Regions from separate parts of the Homo sapiens genome. Here all the other regions are linked to region 1. The links come from fine-mapping of genetic effects on plasma protein levels. Region 1 holds a variant in brackets. A gene starts in each other region. All regions are shown on their forward strands.

Region 1 (8,147 bases):
CTCAGTCATACACTGAATGCCTCTTAGTCTCTCAGTAACCTTCAATCCAGAGAGGTTTACTCTGCACAAAGAGGAGGTTTATCATTAATTGGTTGATTTAATTCTGACAAGGAGTGGTGGGATGGAGGAGATTCTTAGAAAGGTATAAGACCCCATTAGCCTGAAAAACTACTAGAACCCAGTTTTTAAATAGGGCCAGGCTTGCTTTCCAGTTTTAATTCAATACAATAGAACTGTTAAATGATTCCAATTACTGCTACAAATGGTCGCCTATTGTTAACAATATAGAGCCAAAGCAGACCAACAACATAAGGTTTCTTCTGGAATATTACATTTCCAGCTACACATAACCTTTCAGACCAGGAAGGCAGTGGAGAGATTTTTCAGAAACACCAACTAAGCCTGCAGAACAGTCTATTAGAAATTGATACAAATCCAAATCTGAGGAGATCGTCTCAGTACCTTTCCTGGCTACAACTGAATTCAAAGGGTGACATTAAAGATGCCTAAAATCATGCAAAGATGTCAAACGCTACCACTGAATGGCTGGTCCCACCTCTGGGATTTCCGTGCCTACCTCAAATATTTCATTTTTTTTTTCTTGAATATCATGGTGTGTATGAGAGGAAACTTACATGAGTTTATACATTTTAAAATACAGATTTTACCAAAATAATTCTTAACCAAATGTTACCAAAGCCATGACTTAAGGGCGTTATATACACTCAGTATACCTTAGAACACTGTATATATCACACACAGTGATGGGCAGGACTCACTGCTACAGAACTATTAGAAATGAAAAAGCCGCCATTTCCCCCCTTTTCCTCTTCTTGCCTCTCTGCATTTCTCAGTCAGTATTACAAGAGCAGCTTGCTAACTGGAAGAGTGGCCACTGAAAAAAATGGAGACAAGAGTTTAACTTGGGGCTGGTGTTCCTGGAGCCAAAGTCATCATCCGCAGATTGGTAACCGCGGATACAAGGCCTCTTAGAGGCCACTAGTGGCCACTGGGTGAACTGCATGAAGATGGCATTTTAAAAATGAGTGTTCTTTCCAAGGTTTAGTCGCTTAGCAAATTTCGTCCCTTAGTGACTTGGAGAAAACTTGATATATAGTGCCAGAAAACCTGCTTTTAGAACAATTAAATATAAATCTGAAATGCAAAAGGTAACCAGGAGATAGACCTCCTTGTTCAGATGGTTTGTGTGCTGCTATGTGTGTGTGCATATATATATATATATATATATATATATATATATATATATATATATATATATATATATATATATAGTTTTTTTCCTGTCCTTCTCATCTGGGACTTGCTGTCATGATTCTGGGCTTCAGAAACCGTATCCCCAGAGCATGTAACACTTATCTTGTCTGTGAAAAATATTAAATGAATGCATATGTATGAAATCTGTAGCTTGTTATTAATAATAAATTATAATGCCACTAGAGCTATGAGTCATTCAATTCACAAGTGATTGACTGTTCGTTCATTCATTCTACAGTCACTGGACATTCATATTCCTATGCCAGTGCCTCTAATGGATATCCCAGAATGTCACTTGGGTTGTGGACACATATGTCTGCCAAGTAAATAATGACTGATTTTTTCAGAGTAATTCAGTTATGCTGCTCCCCACCTGTGCCTCCAGAAATCAACAAAAGCAGTAATCCCAGATTTTATTTTTCTTAATTGGCCTACCTGCACATGTTCTCTGACAGTTTTAATGTCTTACTAGCAGCATTTTGTTCAGATGTCAGATTTATGGGGGCTACAGGTCGTACATATTCCTCATAGGAACAAGTATTCCCTGGAGTGCTTTCCTGACCTTGCTGGGATATGATAAGTTGCACATTCCCAGTCAATGAACACTTATTGGTCACGTGCTGTGGGTCAGACTTGATCACAGACACTGCTCACTAGATGCTCACGACAATCTGTGAAGTAGGCATTGCTTCCATTTTGCTGATGGAGAAACTGAGGCTTGGGCACCAATATGACTTTCCCAGAGTGAGCAAGAAGTGGCAGATGTGGAACAGGAAGCCAGGTCTTCTGCCTCTGCTCTCTGCTTCCCTGCTTCCCTGCACTGCCTTTGTAGAGGTTCCCGTTTTTCCCAATCCTGGCAAGGGTGGCTGTGTCCTGACTCCTCGTGGCAAGGACGGTTGTGTCATTACTCCTCCTGTTCTTACTGCCCACTTCTTCCAGTGCCTACACCCCCTTTCCGGGGGCCCAGAGTCTTTTGGGCCACAGGGGAATTTTGCTAGAAGATGGAATACACAAAGGCAACCTGCTTAATAATTTGATATCTGTAGGCTTTTGCATTTTATTTGCATTCTTAAAGAAAAAGACTCGTAGACTGGGTAAGCAGTGAATATCAACTGCTTACCTTCAGCCTCTATTTCCTAACATATAACATGGGGATGAGGATTCATTGATTAGCAAGTCCTCTTAAACTCAGTTCTGTGGCTGTCAAGGTGGGGTTTTAGAGAGTGGCATCCAGCTGGGAGACAGATTTCAGAACTACAAGTTCGTCTTAGCCCCTCAAACTCTACCACCTGACTGAAGATGCCCTTCTGTTCTGTGAACTTCTTTTCCCAAACTTGGATGGTACTGGATACCTCCCTGATTTCACTATTTGATATCAAATCATCTAGTGTGACAGTAACACAATGACACCAGTCCACAACACCTGGGCAAGTGTCTGGCTTGCTGGATAAACTGCACTTCCCCTTTCCCTTTGCTATATGGAGAGCTGCATCAATCTGGGCTTTCAGGCATTGGTCTCCTTCTAATGAGGGGAATCGACCACACAGCTCCAGCATGACCATGCTCACCTATCCCAGCAAATAGGTGTTTATCCCCAGTGAAACCCAGCACAGAACACCCTTAGGAGTAAAATTAGATTTTGGTGCATGAATGTTATTGACAAAAAAGACTCCCTGCTCAATGCCACTCGGGGACATGAGTCTGAATGTCCCTGCCATGGCCCAGGGGAATGATGTCTGTATCACCAAACCAGTGCTGGCACCTGGACCTTGTCACCACTGACAGGGCTGAGAGGAGGTCAGCTGCCGGCTGCTGTACCCGGAACAGGTTTCTAGGGATCAGGCAGAGGCAAGAGGCTGGGGAAGCAGCTTGCCTTGCCAGCTCACCAGGCTGCTCTGGAGAGAAATAGAGGGCTTCTATCTCTATTACTGTCAGAGTCTGGCACTTCTCCCCGGCTCTGAAATTCACAGCAATGGATGGAGGAGGGAGGAGGGAGAAGGAAGGAGGTGCAAGCCAGACAATCAAAACAGCCACAATATTTTGGAAGTGGAATATTCCAGCTAGAGAAAATTCTCTAAAGCATTGAGCAGTAGGGCTGGAAGAGGCCCTAGCTAATCCAGCACTCTGGTTTTGTAGAGGAAATAGTTGAGAGGCAGAAAGACAAAGCAACTTCTCTGAGGTTACAAGGTCAGTAAGGGGCAGAACTGGGACAAGGCTCTGGGTCTTCGGTGCTTTCACCACTTAAAAGAAAGCTTTTGCTTTCTTCCTTTATAAAACCAGAGATTGGCAGGGGGCTTCCTTTTGTGGGAACCCCAGTGGAGACAGAGGATGTTTACCTGCAGGGAAGAGGGGCCAGGGCCCGGCTGTGCCTGGACCCAGAGTGGTGGGGAAGGGGGGTATGCTCATACCTTGCAGGTTGACGCCCCGGGGCACCA[C/A]GCCCTGAAGCTCCACTGTGGGCAGGTCATCTTCCGCTGCATTAGAGTTATTGGGTGGAACTGCTCTTCTGCCTCCAAAGGCGGTCCTGGAAGTTTCTGACATTTTTGACTTTACAAGGTCCTTCAGAAAAAAAAAAAAAAGAAGACAACAGAAAAGGCATGTAAAGTGAGTAACATTTGAGACAAGGATTCCAAAATAGAGAAACAGATATATCTGTGTGTGATAGCACTTGAGCAACACATTTTGCCGTTTGCATAAATAAAAACTGAGAAGTGGCAGCAAGGATTAGTCTAATGATGGAATACAGTTCCCCAAGGATCTTGGGGAGATTTTTGTATGTGTCAAAACATATGGAAAGCAGAAGAAAAGGGGCTTATTCAAAGAAATTTAAAAATTAAAAGATTTTTGGAGACCCAGATTCCCCCACCCTCCATAATCCTACAGCAGCATCTTCGCAAGAAATGTTTCCTGTTATATGCATGTGCTGTATCTATGTTCATTTCATACAGATTTATGAGATTATAAGTCACTTTTAAGAATAAACGCACACAACCATGTCCAGACAAATGTTGTCTTCTAAAGCGTTTACATTTGCAATTTAATTCAACCAATATTTATTGAGGGCCTATGACATGCCAGGCTGTGATCTAGGTACATGGGATACATCAGAGAACAAAACAGAATGTTTGCTCTGATAGATTATAGTCTGATAGGGTTAGGGTGGAGCCCAAGAAGAGCCATAAGTAAATCCACTTAGGGGTGAGGAGGTAGGAACTGCTTTGGAAATTGAGCCACATGGAGGAGGATAAGGAGGTGGAGAGGTTGGGCATGCAATTTTCAATAGGGCTATCAATAGGCTTAAGAAGTCAGGGTTGCCAACATTTCCCATTCCCCAAGCCTGCTTCCCCTTCCCTTGGAGCTTGTGCAGGCACTGAGCCAGTTTAAACAACACACACCTGACGGTCAGTGCCCAGTAAGTACTTGTTGACCAAATGACCAAATGAAGGGGGACTTTGTTTCTGGGCCCAGTGAAGGTTCCCCCTTGATCCCCTGGATTACCCAGTCATGACTCCTGGAGACTTGGCTATTTTCAAAAACCAGGCACACCCCCAAGAGGTGAAGAGTCCCCATTATAGAGGCCACCAGAGTAGAGAGATGGTTCCAGAGACATGTGGAGCACTAACAACATGCTGGAGAAAAGACAACCACGCCTAAGGTGTCTGGTCTGAGAAGGAGACAGGAGTGTTTGGATGCATAAGGTGTGAATGGGTATCCATAAGTATAGATAAATATATTTACAGTCATTGGTGAGCTGACGGGGGAAGGGAGGGAGAAGAGCGAAAAAGGGTTAATGATAGGGAGAAGGCTGCGAGAGCCATCCTCTAGTGAGAAATACCGAAGGTAGGCTGCGGCATTGCCAGGGGTGCAGAACAGTGTGGCGCGCTGTCGGGAGACACAGTGCTAAGGGGGAGAAGGGGGGAGCCCCAGGTGCACGCCTGGCTGGGTGAGTGCGGCGGGCAGGAGCCCTCGCTTCTGGGCGGGTCTAAGGAGGAGAAGTGGCTCGAGTTCAGCTCCAAATTGGGACGGAGGCAGGCGATGCGCAGGAGTGGGGAGGCGCGCAGGAGTGGGGAGCCAAGCCGGCGGGGTTCCAGTCTAGCAGGCTGTTCTCACTTGGCCCCACTCCCTCCACCTTTTGTGTTCCAGCTCCATAATCTGCTCCCTGAGGAAAGGGGGCTCGTCCCTTGGGGAAGCACCTCCAACTCCCCCATCCCCATTTGGTGGCATTCTAAGCAAGCAACGGCTTCGGGAGAGCTGCCTCGAGAGCCTGAGAGAAGTCCCGCTTAGAAGCTGGGCTGGGCAGGTGCGGAGTTGGGGGCGGGAAGCCAGGATTGGGCAAGTGGAGCTGCCTGTGACCGGCGCCACAGGGCCCAGAGCAAGCCGCTTGCTGGTTCAACCAGGAAACCGAGGTGCAGAAGGTGGACGCAGCGGGCCCTGGCTCATAGGGTGCAGGGTCGGTGGCTTACCTGCAGGCGCTCCCCTCCAGAGGTGCCCTCGCGTGGGCTTGCTCTGTGCGCCTCGGGGACTTCCTCAAACGGACTCGGGAAAGACAAGACAGTTGGCTCTTAAATAACTTCCTAAGAGGAGCCCTCACCCTCCTCCCCTGTCCCACAGGGTTTTCTCCTCCCCCTTCTCCACAGCTGGAGCCAGTAGGGGAGCTCAGAGGATTTTCTATTTACTTCATCTGGCCTGTTATCCCGGCAGGTGCGCCCTTCTCTCCCACTTGCCCCTCTGACTCCCAATTTCCCATTCCCACTTCTCCTCCCCATCCCCATCCCTAGATCTGCCCTCCCCACCGCAACCAGTTGCTGGGAGTACCAGGCAAGGGGCCCTGCAGTGCCAGGAAGTCCCCACCCGTCCCCTTTGGTCAGAGGGTCTGGGAGGGTTTCCTTTACAAAGGAATGCTTTTGCCTGGCAGGTCAGCTGCTACTGTGGCTTGGCAGGAGGGGGGTCTGCCCTCCCACAGACAGGTCACACAGACAGTTGTGACCATGCATGCAGTGAGAGCAACGTGTCCCTCCTGTGCAAATAAGGCATGGTCTGCATTCCTGAATCATCCCAGAGCCACAGCCACCGCCTAACCACAAGACTTCCTGCAGGAATGGGATGCCTAGCCCCAAGGAAGATGAGTAAACATCTTTAATAATGCCATGCAGATTAGAAAATAACACTTGGTTTTCTCTGAAAATCATTTTAGTGCATGTTCAAAAATTAGAAAATTTTCCCCCTAAAATTTTAATTTTTTTCTTTTACTCTTTCTTTCTTTCTTTCTTTCATCTTTCTATCTTTCAGATGAAGTCTTGCTCTGTTGCAAAGGCTGGAGTGCAACCTCCACCTCCCGGGTTCAAGTGATTCTTCTGCCTCAGCCTCCCAAGTAGCTGGAACTACAGGTGCATGCCACCATGCCCGCCTAATTTTTGTATTTTTAGTAGAGATGGGGCTTTACCATGTTGGCCAGGCTGGTCTCGAACTTCTGACCTCAGGTGATCCACCCTCCTTGGCTTCCCAAAGTGTTGGGATTACAGGCGTGAGCCACCGCACCCAGTCAAACATGGCTATTTCTAACCTTCTTTACTGTCTTCAAATTTCTGACCCTGCCACTCAATCTCCCAATGTTATAAAGAAGAAAAAAAAAGATGCCATTGGTTAGAAATTCTCTCAATTTTCTGCTACCAATCTATGAACCTGCCTGCAACCTTATCTATCTTTTCCTCTTTCTTCTTGTTACTGAAGTTGGAAAGGTCCCTCCTCCCTCTGCATCTCCAAACCAGGCTTCTGCGTTGCCTTGTTCTCCGGGGCTTTGCTGTGACTCTTACGTACTCTTCCTCTTGCAGCTTCAAGCTCCTGCTTGCTAATAGTGGGTCTTCTCAGCATTCATGCAATTTCAGGTCTCTTCAGTATTTTTTTAAAAACCTCCCCCAACCTATGTCCCCACTCCTGCTGTTACTCCTCCTCTCCTCCCCTTCATCACTAAGTATCTGCCATCTGGCTTCCGCCTCATCATTCTACTGAAAGTGGAGGTCACGGTCTCCAAGGCCTGTGCTCAGGCCAAAAGACAGGATTCAGTTCTTATTTACCTGACCTTTTGGAAGCATTGAACTCTGTCTTTGAAGGTATTTTTCCTAGGCCTCCTTGACATTGAACACTCTGTGGTTTCCTCCAGTGCAGCGCAATATTCCTTGATTGTCTGAGGAACTCCCATAGTTTTCAAATTCCATCTATATCCTGACACCTCCCAAATCTGGGTCTTTAGCCAAGATCTTTTCCAGAATTGCAGATTCCCGTATCTAAGTGCCTACTGGCTATCCTCATTTGTCACATCCCAGTGACAACACACGCTCATCATGTCTAACATGAGATGTATCACTTTCCTGGAAAACCTGGTGCATCTCAGGAGTTCCCTACCTCAATGAATACCATCACTTTGCACGCAGGTGGTACACCAGACACATGGGCATCATTCTTGAGGCTTCCTTGTTTCTCTCCCTCAATCATCAAATCCGATCCTTGAGCAAATATTTTCTATCCTACCTCTTAAACAGCCCTTGAATCTACCCGTGTATGTACCCCTTTCCAGTCCATTCTCTACAGTGCAGTCAGAATGAGCATTTCAGGGCTAAAATCCGAAATCAAATTATTTGCACAAAGCCCTTATATGGCTACTTCTCTTTGCTTTTTGGATAAATTGCAAGCTGAAACTGACAAGGCCTATACAAGCTGGACCCTGCCTCTAGCACTGCTCTTTCCCTCAGCATCCATACAATTTGAGGTCTCCAGTATTTTTAAAAAACCTTCCCCCAACACCAATCTACCCTCCCTGCCTTCCACTGTTGTTTCTCCTCTCCTCCTCTTCATCACTAAGCTTCTGCCATTTGGCT
Region 2 (8,169 bases), not on the chromosome of region 1:
ATTTACAAGAAAGTTTAGAAATTATCCAGAATGTTCTGGGGATTAATAAAAAAAGAATGTTTAGAAATTAAAAACCATCAGGAGTTTGAGACCAGCCTGGCCAACATGGTGAAACCCTGTATCTACTAAAAATACAAAAATTAGCTGGGCATGGTGGTGCACACCTGTAATCCCAGTTACTTGGGAGGCTGAGGTGGGAGAATAGCTTGAACCTGGGAGGAGGAGGTTGCAGTGAGCCGAGATTGTGCCACTGCACTCCAGCCTGGGCAACAGAGCAAGACTCCATCTCAAAAAAAAAAAAAAAAAAAAAGAAGAAGAAGAAAAAGAAAAAGAAAGAAATTAAAAACCAATTTTTTGTCTTCAAAATTTTAATTTCTTTTTCATCAAAAGCAAGGTTACATAGAGTGAAATGCGTAGATCTTACATGCATAATTCAATGTGTTTTGATAAATATATACATCACATAATCACTATCCCAATTAACACATAGAATATTTCCAGGACCTGGAAACTTCCCTTGTGTACCATTCAAGTTAATCCTCAACCCCTAATCCCAAGCTGAAGCAGTCACTATTGTGAATTTCTATTATCATAGATTAGTTTGGCCTATTCTTGAACTTCATATAAGTGGAATTAGAGTATGTCTTCTTTTGCATCTGGCTTCTTTCACTCAAGATTTTTCCAAATTCATCCATACTATTGCATGTATCAATAGTTTATTATTGACTGGGCACGGTAGCTCACACCTGTAATCCTAGCACTTTGGGAGGCTGGGCCAGGTGGATCATTTGAGCTCAGGAGTGCAAGACCACCCTGGGCAACATGGTGAAACCCTGTCTCTACAAAAAATACAAAAATTAGCTGGACATGGTGGCATGTACCTGTAGTCCCAGCTACTTGAGTGGCTGAGGTGGGAGGATCACCTGAGTCCCAGAGGTCAAGGCAGCCACCATCCTGCCATTGCATTCCAGCCTGTGTGACAGAATGAGGTTTTGTTTCTGAAAAAAAAAAAAAAAAAAAAAGGCTTATTATTATATGAGGAGTATTATGCCATTACAGGGATACATCACATTCTGGTTATCCATTCACTTGTTGATGGAGATTTGAGTTAATTTCATTTATCAGTTATTTTGAAAAATGCTGCTGGAAATATCCACGTCCAAGCCACCACCTGGACATTCACTTTCACTCCTCCTGAGTGAATACCTAGGACTGGAATTGCTGGGTGATAGGGCCAATGTATTATGTTTATTTAATTAATTCATTTATTTATTCATTTTTGAGATGGAGTGTCTCTCTGTCACCCAGGCTGGAGTGCACTGGCACTATCTAGCATCACTGCAACCACCGCCTCCCAGGTTCAAGCGATTCTCCTGCCTTAGCCTCCCGAGTAGCTTGGACTCCAGGTGTGCACCACCAAGCCTGGCTAATTTTTGTATTTTTAGTAGAGACAGGGTTTCACCATGTTGGCCAGGCTGGTCTCGAACTCCTAACCTCAGGTGATCCACCCTCCTCAGCCTCCCAAAGCACTGGGATTACAGGTGTGAGCCACTGCGCCTGGCTCTTTGTTTCTAATCTGGTTGTCTTTTATTTCTTTGCTTTTGTTTATTTAACTTAAAAATCAATAATATTTTATGTAATGGTATAAAATAATTTACCATTCATAATGGGAAAAAACTCATAATGTATCTAGGATTTCTTGGTTACGAATGTACAAGATATCTATGGAGAAAATTGTGAAATGTTAAAGATCATCATAAAAGACAATCTGAATTAGCAGTTCTATATTACAAGAGGATAAATTAATATGTCATTTCTCCTCAAATCAATCGAGTGAATTCAATCTTAATGAATTTTTTGGATTGGATTGGATTGGATTTTTTGAAGAGCAAAAAATTTGTCCTAAAGTATACATGAAAGATTAAATATCCACAAATAGCTAAGTCAGTATTGAAAAAGAAGAGTAAAGAGGAGGAACTTGTTTTATAAGATATGAAGACATATTGCAGAGCTGAGTAATAGAAAGCAGTGTGGGAAGGGTATAAGAACAGATACCAGAGACCAAGAGAACAGAGCAGGTTGCTCAAATACAGACCTAAACATATGGAATTATCTAACACGTGGCATCAGGCAGCAATGGGAGACGGCTTAGAAACAAAAGGCATTTTGCTATGTGAAAGTCACATATTTAGTGCAGCCTAGAGTAATTTACTAACCCTGCTGTCTAACAATACATTGATCTTCACTGACAGCTGACTAATCCCAGGACACTGAAGCTAGAGGAAGGGTAGGTACATTTTTCCACTGGGGTGAATAGAGAATAACCAATTCTCGAACTTCTCTTTTAGACTGTTGCATAGCTGAAATACTCAGGGAAGCTTTCTCTTTAACTGTTCAACTATGGCACACATTTTATTTTAAACAGGAGGTGCTAAAGTCATTGGGATTTCCCCTTTGGTGTTATGTGGCAAGTTACAGCAGAGTCAACATTTAAAAACATCGGCCAGGCAAGGTGGCTCATGCCTGTAATCCCAGCACTTTGGGAGGCCAAGGCGGGTAGGTCACCTGAGATCAGGAGTTTGAGAGTTTCGCTTGGCCAACATGGTGAAATCCCACCTCTACTAAAAATACAAAAATTACCCAGGTGTGGTGGCAGGCGCCTGTAATCCCAGCTACTTGGGAGGCTGAGGCATGAGAATCTCTTGAACCCAGGAGGCTGAGGTTGCAGTGAGCCAAGATAGCGCCATTGCACTCCAGCCTGGGCTACAGAGCGAGACTCTGTCTCAAAAAATAAATAAATAAATAAATAAATAAAAACATTTAGGTCTCCTGCATACTGATGTCACACAGTCATAAGAAAGTACTGAACACAGTGATATTTCTTAAACATTTTGGGTACACTCCCAGCTCAGGATCTTTTCACTTGTTTACTCTGCCTAAACTTCTCTTCTCCCATATATACTCAGTTTACTCCCTTGCCTCTTCAAGTCTTTACACAAATGGCACATCATTAGAGAGGTCTTCCCTAACGATTCTATTTAAAATTGTAACCCCCTCCATACCTGGGCACCCTCCCATTCCCTTTTCCTGTTTTACTTTTCTCCATACTATAAGCATTTTACTTATTTCTTTTGTTGATTGCCTGTCTTTCTTTTTCTTTCCTTCCCTCCCTCCCTCCTTCCCTTCCTTCCTTCCTTCTGTAGAGATGAGGTTTCACCATGTGGCCAGGTTGGTCCTGAGCTTAAGTGGTCCTCGCACCTCAGCCTGGCAAACTGCTGGGATTACAGGTGTGGGCCATCACGCCTGGCCTTACAGTAAATTCTTGATAAACAACCCAGCAACTGCCTCTTTCCTTTAAAAATTCACTTGTAGCTTCTACTGATCTGAGTATACCCAGGGCAACTTGAATCTACAATTGCAATCCTCAAACTTGGCCCAGATAAACTCTACTTATATTAATTTTGCCTCATCTTCCTTTTCGGTTATTTCATGCATGTTTCACTTTGTTCAACCTTTAATAGCTCAAACCAGAGTCTAAAGACAAAAAAAGTTACTGCACGATAGTAATTTTCATGTAGCTATTTTCATCTAGCTTGTATTTTTTTTTTTTTTTTTTTTTTACTATTTTTTGACTGACTTCGACTATTTTCACCTAGCTAGGATTTTTCAGAAGGGACATTCTTTAACTGTGTCTCACAATCCAATTTCCTCAGAGAAACTTCTTGGAGTTTCCCCAGCACAGCTGCTCATCATAGGCTTCATGGACAAAAGCCTCACTACTTATTAGAGTATCTTCTTCTGGGTCTTTTTATTTATGGCAGGTCTAATTTCTTGATGCTGCTGCACTAGTTCTAGAAGTCAAAGAAACAAAGTCAAAAGAGTTGTTTCTTGAGATAGAAGCTGAGATGGAGGTATGTATGGTTAGAAAGGGCTACTTAACCCCATCAAAGATTATTGTTATTGGAATTATGCCCTATCTCAATTGCCTATTTAACAAAGCAAATAATCTAGAATGGGCAAGACTTAAGACAATTATGATTGGTTACTAAGTGTTCACTTAACTTCCAAACTGGCATATCTTCTGAGTAGATGGATTCAGCACAACTTCAATTCTATGCTCCTGGGTTGCAATCCTCAAACTTGGACCAAATAAACTCTCTAGTTATATTAATTTTGCCTCAGCTTCTACCTTTTAGGTCAATAGTATTAAGCCTCTTCAAGTGGTCCTGAAGTATTAAGCCTCTTTAAGTGGTTACTGAAGCTGTATTCATCTTTTTTCTGTGTGTGTGTGTGTCATTTTGTATTGTTTCTGTTGCTATATCTTTGAATTTATTTACCTTTTTCTCTGCATTGCTTAATGCGCTAGCAATCCCATCCAAAGAAATTTTTATTTCAAATATTTTTCACCTCCATCCAGAAATTTGATTTTTCAAAAATCTTTCCAGTTTCTCTCCTATCATGTCTTCCTTTAAATCTTTGAGCATATTCATAACAGGTGTTTAAAATCCTTGTCTGTTAATTCCATCATTTTTATCATTTTGGGGTTTGTTTCTATGAACTTCGTGAGATATTTTCTTACCACTTGGTCTCTCTCTCTCTCTTTTGAGACAGAGTCTTACCCTGTCACCCAGGCTGGGTTGTGGTGGTGCAATCATAGGTCACTGCAGCCTCAAACTCCTGGGCTCAAGCAATCCTCCCGCCTCAGCATCCCCAAGTGCTGCGTGTCTTTCAATTTTTGACTGGATGTCTCACATTTTGAATTTAATGTTGTTGAATCCTGGATTTTACTGTAGTCTTTCAGAGAGTTTTAGAATTTGTTCTTACAGGTAATTAGGTTACTTACAGAGCAGTTTGATCCTTTCAGGGCTTGTTTTAAGGCTTTTGAAGAATCTACAGTAGTTTATGTTCTGGGTCCTGCAGTCTACGGTTATTATATCTCACTAAGGCATGACACTTTCGTAACCACCCAAAAGGTTCATCTTGCCTACTGCCTAGACAGAGTCGATTTATCAAGACAGGGGAATTGCAATAAAGAGCAATTCATGCAGAGCTGGCAGTGCAGGAGACCTGAGTTTTATTAATCAAATCAGTCTCCCTGAGCATTTGGGGATCAGAGTTTTTAAGGATAATTGGGTGGGTGAGAAGCCAGTGAGATGGGAGTGGTGACTGGTTGGGTAGGAGATGAAATCATAGGGAGTCGATGCTGTCCTCTTGCACTGAGTCAGTTCCTCCCGTGGGGGACACAAAATCAGATGAGCTAGTTTATCCAAGATCAGGTGAGTCAGTTTATCAATCTGGGAGGTGCCAGCTGATCCATCAAGTGCAGGGCCTGCAAAATATCTCAAGCACTGATCTTAGATTTTACAATAGTGATATTATCCCCAGGAGCAATTTGGAGAGGGTTAGAATCTTGTAGCCTTCAGCTGCATGAGTCCTAAATCATAATTTCTAATCTTTCGGCTAATTTACTAGTCCTACAAAAGCAGTCTAGTCTCAAGAAGAGGGTTTATTTTGAGAAAGGGCTATCACCTTTGTTTTAAACTATAAGCTATACACTAAGTTCCTCCCAGTGTTAGTTTGGCCTACGCCTAGGAATGAATAAGGATAGCCTGGAGGTTAAAAGCAAGATGGAGTTGGTTAGGTCTGATCTCTTTCACTGTCTCAATGATAATTTTGCAATGGCAGTTTCACATCTGAGGTTTCTATTGCGTGTTCCATGGTATTCAATAATCTCTTCACTCTGGTTGCTGGGAGCTCAAATGATTCCCAGTTCTGTGTGACCTCTCACCATTGTTTGGTGTACTGCTCCCCAGTAATTGTTCTTTCCTGGCCTTGTGGAGTTTCACGTTTTTTATTCAGTTAAAGATTCAAGGTACTCCTAAGCAGATTTCTGAAGCTCTTTTTCCATGTAATTCCCTCCTCTCCAGAATTCTGCCCTACAAATTCCAACCGACTTGGCCTACCCCAATTTCGTCAACTCCAATCTCTGTCTTTTCAACCCAGGAGATCCTAGGTTTCCATATGATTTCCTTTCATCGCACCACAGACTGGAAATCGCCTCTGGGCAAAAGGGCAGGATGATATACGGCTCCTTTTATTTCTTTTCTCTCAGGTAAAACAGTCCACAGCTGTCCGTTGTCCAATGTCTGAATAGGTGTCTCCTATATTTTGTTCCGTTTTCTAATTGTTTATAGTGGGACACTAAGTCCCGACCCATTTTCTTTTCTTGCCCAGAGTGGAAGTTTTAGGAAACTCCTTATGGAAAATGTGAATTGTTTTATTATTTTTTATGGTCGAAAACATCTTTCTCTATGATATCTTCCCACTCACCCTACTTTTTTCCTTCTCAGGAAACACTGACGGGAACACACGTGCCGGTGCTACCCTCCAGTGACTGGACTAGATCCTTGCGCAACTTCAACCCGCGCTAGCTCCGCCTACGGCCGGCCACGCCCCGTCTTCTCACCGGCGCGCCTCCCTCTTGTTCGTCCTCCCTCCCCCTGTGGACTGCGGCGCTGGCGTTCCGCGCACGCCGGCTCACTGCGCCTGCCCGGCGTGTGGACGCCACACGCTCCCGGAAGTGGGAGGTGGCCGCTGGAGTTTGTGTGGCCGCCGCCGCGGGAACGCGAGCCCGGTAATTTTTCAACGGAGAAAGGCGAGGCTTTCGGGCTCTGCAGAGTGAGAGTTAGCAAGTGTCCGGCTCCAGCAACTCTCCTCTGGCGTGACAGCCGGCATGGAGGATCCACAGAGTAAAGAGCCTGCCGGCGAGGCCGTGGCTCTCGCGCTGCTGGAGTCGCCGCGGCCGGAGGGCGGGGAGGAGCCGCCGCGTCCCAGTCCCGAGGTGAGGAGTCGACCCGCGCCTGGCTGTTGGCGCCAGCTGCCCCGTCCCCAAAGCGCCCTCGGCACCCCTTTCTTCTCAGGTGTCCCGCAGAAGGTGCAGCTGTGCGCCCTTGGACCCCAGCCTCTTCCTCGGTGCCCAGCTCCCTGGCTTTATCCTCGGGTGGGTGTCTTGGAGCCCCCTCAGGGCCGAATCACTCTCTGGGAGGGAGGAAATCGTCAAGACCAGTTCTGTCTACAGTGGGTTAACAGGTTCTAAGAGGGAGTTTTGCTTTAAACTTAATTCTGTGTTCACGGTTGCTGTTGTCACTCCATGTAGCCGTTATGGGTAGTTTGCAAGGCTTTATGTTTTTAAAATCTCACCATATACGCTAGGTATGTCACTTCATGCCTGTTTTTAAAAAAAGAAAAAATTTAAAAAGCACTCACCAGCATCCCTGTCTCTGTACCTGTTAAGTGGAGCTTCGTCTTAGCTGCTTTTGCTCATTAACTGGTGTCTCATATAACCATAGTATAAGATTGAATGAATCATTTTGACATCTCATCGGTTGAACTTAGTTACAGTGGCAAAGTTGTAGAACAGTCTTAAAACTTATTTAACGAATGTTAATTGTTGACTAGCGCTGCGGATTGTAAGTGATTGAATACTAAAATTGATCTTTTCCTAATAATAAACATGTTGAACACTTCGTAAAGCTTCATAAAGTGCGTATTTGCAAGAGGCCTCCTAACTCTTGCTCCTTCCGTCCACAGTCAGTTTCCATCTGGCAGCTAGAATGAGCTTTTCAATAACATGAATTTGGCTTATTCCCCTCCTGAGTCACTTCCATTTGCTGCTCTGCGGGGTCGGGTGCCTGCCTCCCTTGGTAATTGCATCTCACACAGTTTTTTCCCTTTTGTTCCCAGTGCCCCTCGCTGCCTTGTGTTCTTTGACATTGGAAAGAAGGTCTCGTTAAGGATCTCTGTATGTTCCTTTTGCCCTGTGTGCACTTCCTTTGGATCCTTGCAATTATCTTTCTCCTTCTAAGGTTGTTATTTCAAAGAGTACTTGCACATCCCTTCTCTTGTAAAGAACCACTCTTCCACCTGCCTCCCTCTTCAGCCTGAGATACGTTGTCAATCTCATCCTGTAAGTGGGTTTTAAAATAAATTTCGAAGTTTATTTTTAGTAAAAGAAGTGTGTTTGAATATGCTTCTTTATATTTGAAAGTCTTGACACTTTTACAGCTACTTAAGGCCTAGGTCTCTGTTCCAAATTGGCTTTAGTGACGGTAGTAATTGTTAAAAACTTACTGTTGCATGCTCTTTATAGTGATACTTTTTTTTTTTTTT
Region 3 (8,184 bases), not on the chromosome of region 1:
ACTGGCTCAACCAAAGCCCCTTACTCTGGGTCACCTGCCCTAGTGGAAGATCATTGATAGTTTGATGATAGTGTAGCCTGATATAAAATAATGAAATGAGTCAATTAGATTACCTTCTCACAACTTTGAACTCAAACTTTCAATTCAAAATTGAAAAACACATTTTTCAATGGGTATCATGAGAGAAGTTGGCACATGAAGAGAGATGAGTCTTACAAATGATAAAGCATTAGAGTAGCAATCTTGCCCTTCCAGAGGCCAGAGTTTCAAGCATTTTTCTGGCATCTTATGCTTAATTATCAAAATAAGTTTCTTGTTACTTAAAGTAAATTACCTCTCTTTGCCTTGCAATATGATAATTTCAGTTATTACCCTATTCCCTTCAACAGAGTATTATTAAAAACAGATACAGAAAATAACATTTTAATGTAAAAGCATTATTTACTGGATTTCAAATTATGCCTTCATTTTGTAGAAAGACAGATTGCTAGTGATTTTGTTCTTATCTACTAAAAGGTTTAACCGCTTTCCATTTTTATTGGACCCCTATTTTTATATACAAATTTCTTTGAGTATTGAAACATTGAGTGACATATCCAGCTGACTTACTGAAGCACCTTGGCTCTGGAGACCAGCCTTCTGTTGTACACGTGGTTTGCTCTTCTTGTCTTCCACTTTCAGTGGTATAACCAGCCAAGCAGAAAAATGACAATTTTTTGTCTATGCTCATTGGAAAGTAAAAGCTTTTAAAAGTATAGTAATATTGGGCAATTCTTCCATTTTCCACATGAGGAAAACCACAGGGTTTCTCTGAAATGAGTAAATGTCAAGCTGAAAATGGAAAAACAAATCTAAAAACATAAATTTGTAATCAGGTGACAATACAAACTAAAAGTTTTTAGAGACACTTCAACTAGTACTTATTTTTCTTACTTAAATTTTTAAGGTACTTTTGTGACAACTCAAGCAGTCCTTTTATCATAATTGATCTGCAAATGACTTTAAACATCCAACAGTCATGATAAAATTTAGCAGACCACTTTTTCAGGGAAGCTTTGCATAACTTCGTAGAACAGTACTTTTTTTTTTCTTCCTAGACACAGAGTCTTCCTCAGTTATCCAAGCTTCAGTGCAGTGCTGAAATATAGCTCACTGCCACCAGGAGCTCCTGGGCTTAAGCAAGCCTCCTCTCCTGTAGCTAGGACTGCAGGCACATGCCACCACATCTGGCTAATTTTTGTTTTATTTTTTGTAGAGATGAGGGGTCTCACTCTGTTGCTCACGCTGGTCTCAAACTCCTGGACTCAAAGGATCCTTCTGCTTTGGCCTCCCAAAGCACTAGGATTACAAGACTTGAACCACTCCACCCTGCCTGCACTTCCTAATAGATATGTATTGTAAGTCACTTATGTAATTTAAAAATTTCTAATAGTCACATTCATAAAAATACTAAGGAACAATTGAAGTTAGTTTTAATAATAGGTTTTTATTTAACCCAATATATTGAAAATATTTTACATTCTTTTTTTTTCTAACTCTTTAAAATCCACTACATATTTATACTTACAGAATATCTGATCTTGAACTAGTGACATTTTAAGTACTGTCTCCAATAGCTATATGTGGCTGATGGCCACTGTATTGGACAGTACAGTTCAGGAATAGGTAAAGTTTCTCCTTAACATATGCTAACTCATAAAAAATTTTGAAATAAATAGCATTAAAAGAAAAAACAGACAACCAAGTAAAACAAAGCAATACTTGGCAAGAACTTGGCAAAATAGGATATTTAAATGGTTAGAGACCTGGTACTTAGCATTACTAGTCATCAGGGAAATGAAAATTTAAACCACCATGAGATACTACTGCATATCCAATAGAACTGCTGAAATGAAAAAGACAAGCTATCTCAATGATTGTGAAGAAGTGAAGAAACTGGAACTCGCATATTTCTACAACTGAAAGTATAAATCAGTCCAAACTCTATGAGAGAACACCTTTGCAATATATATTGGGGTAAAACATGTACAAACCATATTACCCAATAAAAAAAGCACATATTTGTATACCAAAAGACATGGAAAAAAATGCTTATAGTGGCAGTATTCATATAGTCCCAAACTGGGAACAATCTAAATGCCCATAAATAATAGAAAAGATAAACACATTTTAGACTATGCATACAATGGAATATTATCCAACAACAGAAATGAACAAATGGTGAATCTCATAAACATAATATTGAGTGAAAGAAGCCAATCACATATGAATTAATGTATACATTTGCATAACTTTTTAAAAGAAAACAAACTAATCCATGATAATAGAAGTCAGAATGGTTACCTTTGGGGTTTAGTGCCTTAGAAGGATCATATTTCTGGGGTACTATCACTGTTCTATATCTTGATCTGGATGGTGTAAAATTTTGTAAAAACTATATAAGTGTATCCTGTGATTTTTGCATTTTTCTGGATATGTTATACTCCAAATAAAACATATATTTTAAAAATATATCTTTATGTTGAAGATCTTAAAGTCATAAAAACACTTAAAAGAAAGAAATGCTCGAACAATCCTAGGAGCTGTGGTGGGAAGAAACATGGGCAGTCATGGATGGAAGAAGGCCTAGATCCAGTGTGATTACTACGGCTTCAATGCCTTGGTTGATCACTGTATACCTTAATGCTACTATGAGACATAAAATACTAGTAGTGCTAGCCTAGGTTTGAAGGAAATGGATGTGGAATGATGAGCAACAAAACTTCCACTATCTGATGGAGCAGACAGAAAAACATGGGCTGGATAGTCCCCATTCCTTGAGAATTATTCTCACCATTTTTTCACACCCAAGCACCAAAGGAATTTACAATAAAAAGAGTCTTCCAAAATAGCAGTGCAATGGTGAATACACAAGAAATTTCCCTGAGGGGCACAGTTGCTTGTCAGGGAGGGGCAGCAAAGTATTCTCTGCACAACAATCCTAGGTTGTGGCTTTAAAGACTCTCTGTCCTGGGACATCTCCCTCCACCACCAGGATAGGCACATTATTTGTTAAGGTAGCTGGAATGCCTTGGAGAATATGAATTCCTGACAAAAAATTAATGAGAAATGTGAGGAATATACTAATCACATATAAACCAGGAAATCACAGATGTCTGAACATATTAAAAAAAGTACATGAAGCGATGGACACACTTACTACTGATCAGAGAATGGTAAATAAATAAAAATGGGATATCACTTTATGAATAACCATATAGCAACCAGTACAAAAATGGACAATATGAGGTGTTGGTGAGAATGATGAGGAGCAACAATTTACATCCTCTCTCAGAGATGATATACTTCAAAACTGCCATTCTGCAAAAGTAATCTCTCATTACAGAAATCAAGTACAAGAATAGACTCAATAATGCTATCTGTGAGTGAATACAGACTGATGACATTCTTACAGAAAGATAAGTTGGTTATATTACAATATTCATTCCAGAGCTATTTGTGGTTGAGAGAGCTAGAGTAACATGTTAAAACATTGTAGTAGGTCCCAGGGGAAATGGACTTCAAGATTAGGAATAAGGGGATAAAATGTGTAAGTAAAGCAAGAGTGAGACCTTTCATAGGCCAATAATACTTGCATACCATGAAATGAGAAACACAATTAATTCAATTCTTGTCCCTGAAGTGCACAATGGGAGTTGAGAGAAGCATGCAAAAATAAAATCATTGTCTTGGTCTTCAAGCAGCTTACTTTTTTTTTTGTTGTGTAAAATAGCATTATAACCTTATAATAATTAGAAAATTAACTAGAATATTGCAATGTCTTTATGGTATAGATAACAGACAATTATATCTGCTGGTATTTCCCTATTTAGACAGAAAAATAAAATCAAAAGAAATTCATGCAAAAATCATCCTATTATAGAATTAAAAGTATAAAATAAGATTAATTCTGTGTCTTTCACTTTTATAATTTTAATTATAGATGTTTTGGTAGAAAATTTATAGTTAACTATTCAACTAAAACACAGTTAAAACTTATGTATTTAATTTCAACAAATTCCCAAAAATGTTTATTTTAGAAAAGCTGTATTGCTGTAGCTTCCTTCTTTGTATGTTCACTCTTGCTAATGCTAAGTGTCCTCCCTGGATTCTTCATCCTATGGCCTGATAATATTGATAATGTTCCTGAACAACATACCCATGTACACTGCCTAGCTTCCACTCGCACACTAATCTTACACATTGGGCAATCTGACTATAAAGCTTTCTAATAGGGAGTCCATAGGTATTGGTTTGTTTGGAAAGTCCTGATTTACATGTGTTGTCCAAACAGTTATTAATAGAGCCCCTCTTTTACTCTCTAAGTGTCCCTGTTTGTACAAGCAATTATATGGTTCACCTACTAATCACTACTTAATGTCTCCAACAAATGAATAATTCATTGTGATAAAAATCAAAGTCTCAAAAGTAAAAAATATTTATGGCTATTTCCTTTTCAAATTTCCCACATTAAACTCTCACCTTATGAACAGAATTAAAATTGTACAAGTTTTGTCAGTATTAGGAATGGATTCTAGCATAAATTTAGAATTAAAGTTAACATGTGACTTCGAAATGGACATATTGTTAACCTGAAAACCTTTTCGAAGTATTTAGATCCTGGTCTCCTATGCCCCCTAGAGATACAAGGGTTTTTGTTTTGTTTTGCTTTTCTGACTTATGCTACTGTAAGAACACTTTACTAATTTTGCTCAAAGGAAAAGGTCTAAATATTATAAAAAGTTATATTTATAAAATATGTTATAAAATTGATAATGAAAATAGAAGAGTATATTAAAACTTGAGTTGTATAAATATTAGAATCTCCATTTGTATGTTTTAGAGAATAAAGAATATTAAGAATTAATTTTACCTTCTGCATAGAGTTCTCCTGAGATTATCAATATGATGATAAAAGTCAGGTTTTTCAACCTCATCTTCAGTGGTGTGCTTCACAAAGATTTTAACAATTCTAAGCACTAGGAACTTGTCATTAAGTACACAATACTTCTCTTGAGGAAAAAGTTAATAATTTATAACCTCTGTCTAAGTCCTTTTGTAACGAGTCTTATATTTCACTTAAAATATTTTGAAATAATGTTAAAATAACACAACTATATTAATTGACATTACTTACCATGTCAGAGTCCAGTAAGAGCATGATAACTGATTAGGGCAACAATAGCAGCAGAATAAATAATAAATTATAGCAGCAGAATAAATAATACTAGGTAAATTTTCAACCTAAGTTCCCAATTGTAAATTCATAGAGTAAAGTTCACTTGAGGCCATAGATCTTTACTAATATTGATCAGGTAAAAAGATGAACTTAGGAACATGAGATAACAGATACCTGATGTTGAAATATGTTGTTGCCTAGACTGCACTCCTTAAAGAGATACAGAACCATAGTTGTCTCAATGATAGAATAGTATTACTTATAATAGTAGTGTTTGACATTTAGAGAGTTTTTACTTTGTGGCAGGTGGTGAGATCAGCACTGTGCTATATCAACATTCATTCATGAGAAATGTTTAGAACGTCCATGATAATGGCAGCACATGTAACAGTTTTGAGGTATTTAGCAGTGAAAAAACTGGATTAAAATTATTGCCCTCATGGAGTTTACATTCTAATGAGTTTTAATTTAAAATACAAAATAGGAAAAAATGGTGGATAGGAGGCAGGACTAACTTGCAGCTCCCACTTGGATGGACAGAGCAGGATGTGGAGACTCGCATTGTGAACTTTTGCTCCAAGAACTGCTGCAAGGATATAACAGGAAAGCCAAGATAATCCACAGACCCTCTGAAGAAAGTATATTGCTCCTGCATGACCCAGAAAATAGCCCACATACTGTGAATGCCCAAACTGTGAAAAGTGTGAAAGGGGTATTGTCCACCCCTGAACACACACCCTTGGGGAACCTGAAGGTCTAGATCACAGGAGAAGGATTTGACCTTACCTGGAGCTCAGACAATTTAGAGAGCTGAGCGAAATACAGGGGTAGAGGAAGCAAAGGGTAAAGCCCCATCGTCTCTGTGGGTCCCCAGAGAAGCCATTTCTGACTTGTCTCACAGGGGCTGCCGGAGGAACTGGGAAAAGACCACAGGGAGAAGGAAACCTCCAGCTGAACTTAGTAACAATTCCAACCGAACACAAACTTTCCTGTCCAGAACTCAGGAAAGGGCGTGAATCTGGTGTGCAGACTTAACAGGTAGGGAGGCACAAAAGTCTGGCTTGCATTCTCAGCTGGGAGGCTAGTAGCCTGGGGCAAGTTCTCAATCCTGCTCCCCTACTGCCTGGAAACAAATTCGGTGCTTTTTGGGGGAACACAGTAGAAGTGAGATTTGCTTGTTGGGTTGTGTGAGAGCTGGGTGAGGTCTGTAACTGCCAGCTTTCCCCCACTTCCCTGACAACCTGCATGACACAGAAGAGGCAGCCATAATCCTCCTGGGAAGGTAACTCCATTAACCTGGGAATCACACCCCCATTCCCCACAGAGCCACAACAAGCCCCACCCAAGAAGACTCTGAGCTCAGACATGCCTAACCCTGCCCCCACCTGATGGTCCTTCCCTACCCACCCTGGTAGCTGAAGACAAAGGTCATATTCTCTTGGAAGTTCTAGTGTCCCACCCACCACCTGATCCTCCCCTATATACCACAGCTGATGCTCTCATGAAAGCACTACCTCATGGCAGTGTGTCTGGAATTGGTTCCTTCCAATGGGTTCTTGGTCTTGCTGACTTCAAGAATGAAGCTGCGGACGCTTGCGGTGAGCATTACAGTTTTTAAAGATGGTGTGTCCGGAGTTTGTTCCTCTGATGTTCAGATGTGTCCAGAGTTTCTTCCTTCTGGTGGGTTCCTGGTCTTGCTGACTTCAGGAGTGAAGCCGCAGACCTTCACAGTGAGTGTTACAGCTCTAAAAGATGGTGCGTCCGGAGTTGTTTCTTCCTCCTGGTGGGTTCGAGGTCTTGCTGACTTCAGGAGTGAAGCCACAGACCTTCGCGGTGAGTGTTACAGCTCATAAAGGTAGTGCAGACCCAAAAAGAGAGCAGCAGCAAGATTTATTGCAAAGAGCGAAAGAACAAAGTTTCCACAGCCTGGAAGGGGACCAGACCAGGTTGCTGCGGCTGGCTCGGGTGGCCAGCTTTTATTCCCTTATTTGGCTCCGCCCACATCCCGCTGATTGGCACATTTTACAGAGTGCTGGTTGGTCTGTTTTTACAAAGTGCTGATTGGTGCATTTACAAACCTTTAGCTAGACACAGAGCGCTGATTGGTGTGTTTACAATCCTTTAGCTAGACAGAAAAGTTCTCCAAGTCCCCATTCGACCCAGGAAGTCCAGCTGGCTTCACCTCTCAGCAGGAGGCCAACCAGCACCAAACTAGTGCATCAAACAACTACAACTAAGGACCCTCACAGAGTTCCTTTCACTCCCCTGCCACCTCTACTGGAACAGGTGCTGGTATCCATGACTGAGAGAACTGAAGACAGTTTACATCACAGGACTCTATGCAGACAACCCCCAGTACCAGCCCAGAGCCTGGTAGCCCTTCTGGTGGCTAGATCCAGAAAAGTAATAATAATCACTACAGTTTGGCTCTCAGGAAGTCACATCCCTAGGAAAAGGGGGAGAATACTACATCAAGGGAGCACCCCGTGGGACAAAAGAATCTGAACAGCAGCCTTGAGCCCCAGATCTCCCCTCTGACATAGCCTACCCAAAAGAGAAGGAACTAGAAAAACAATTTTGGTATTATGACAAAACAAGGTTCTTTAACACCACCCAAAAATCACACTAGCTCATCAGCAATGGATCCAAACCAAGAAGAAATTCCTGAACTGCCAGAAAAAGAATTCAGAAGTTTGATTATTAAGCTAATCAAGGAGGCACCAGAGAGAGGTGAAATCCAACTTAAGGATATCAAAAAAATGACACAAGATATGAGCGGAGAAATCTTCAGTGAAATAGATAGCATAAATAAAAAACAGTCACAACTTCAAGAAATAAAGAACACACTTAGAGAAAAGCAAAATGTACTGGAAAGTCTCAGCAATATAATAAAACAAGCAGAAGAAAGAACTTCAGAGCTTGAAGACAAGGTTTTCGAAGTAATCCAATCCAAAAAAGACAAAGAA

Which allele goes with the higher level. Alleles are on the strand shown, and positions count from the first base shown. The strength of an association depends on the size of the effect and on how common the allele is.
For the plasma level of the protein whose gene starts at base 6,567 in region 2, A is the low allele of the variant in region 1 and C is the other (weak association).
As copies of A replace C in region 1, the plasma level of the protein whose gene starts at base 5,013 in region 3 goes down (moderate association).

The links. PIP is the chance, under the fine-mapping model, that this variant and not a neighbour inherited with it causes the effect. The UK Biobank Pharma Proteomics Project read protein levels with antibody pairs (Olink). The fine-mapping took linkage between variants from a reference panel, not from the people measured, so its PIPs are less certain.
Region 2: it holds the start of ERI1, and the variant in region 1 is fine-mapped to the plasma level of the ERI1 protein (UK Biobank, PIP above 0.99).
Region 3: it holds the start of F13B, and the variant in region 1 is fine-mapped to the plasma level of the F13B protein (UK Biobank, PIP above 0.99).

Annotation. Positions count from the first base shown.
Region 1 is chr6:6,314,852-6,322,998 of GRCh38, forward strand. F13A1 (coagulation factor XIII A chain) reads right to left here and starts at 5,811. Exons shown (of 15, transcript NM_000129.4): 1 at 5,736-5,811; 2 at 3,684-3,831. The coding sequence starts at 3,813. The region is part of intron 1 of LOC124901253 (a long non-coding RNA gene); the gene reads left to right. The variant C/A (reference allele first, on the strand shown) is at 3,711.
Region 2 is chr8:8,996,331-9,004,499 of GRCh38, forward strand. ERI1 (exoribonuclease 1) reads left to right here and starts at 6,567. Exons shown (of 7, transcript NM_153332.4): 1 at 6,567-6,841. The coding sequence starts at 6,734. LOC105379227 (a long non-coding RNA gene) reads right to left here and starts at 6,412. Exons shown (of 3, transcript XR_002956680.2): 1 at 6,331-6,412; 2 at 882-998. RefSeq lists an enhancer at 2,380-2,439.
Region 3 is chr1:197,062,248-197,070,431 of GRCh38, forward strand. It overlaps F13B (coagulation factor XIII B chain), which reads right to left and starts at 5,013. Exons shown (of 12, transcript NM_001994.3): 1 at 4,913-5,013; 2 at 610-810. The coding sequence starts at 4,976. RefSeq lists an enhancer at 6,121-7,320.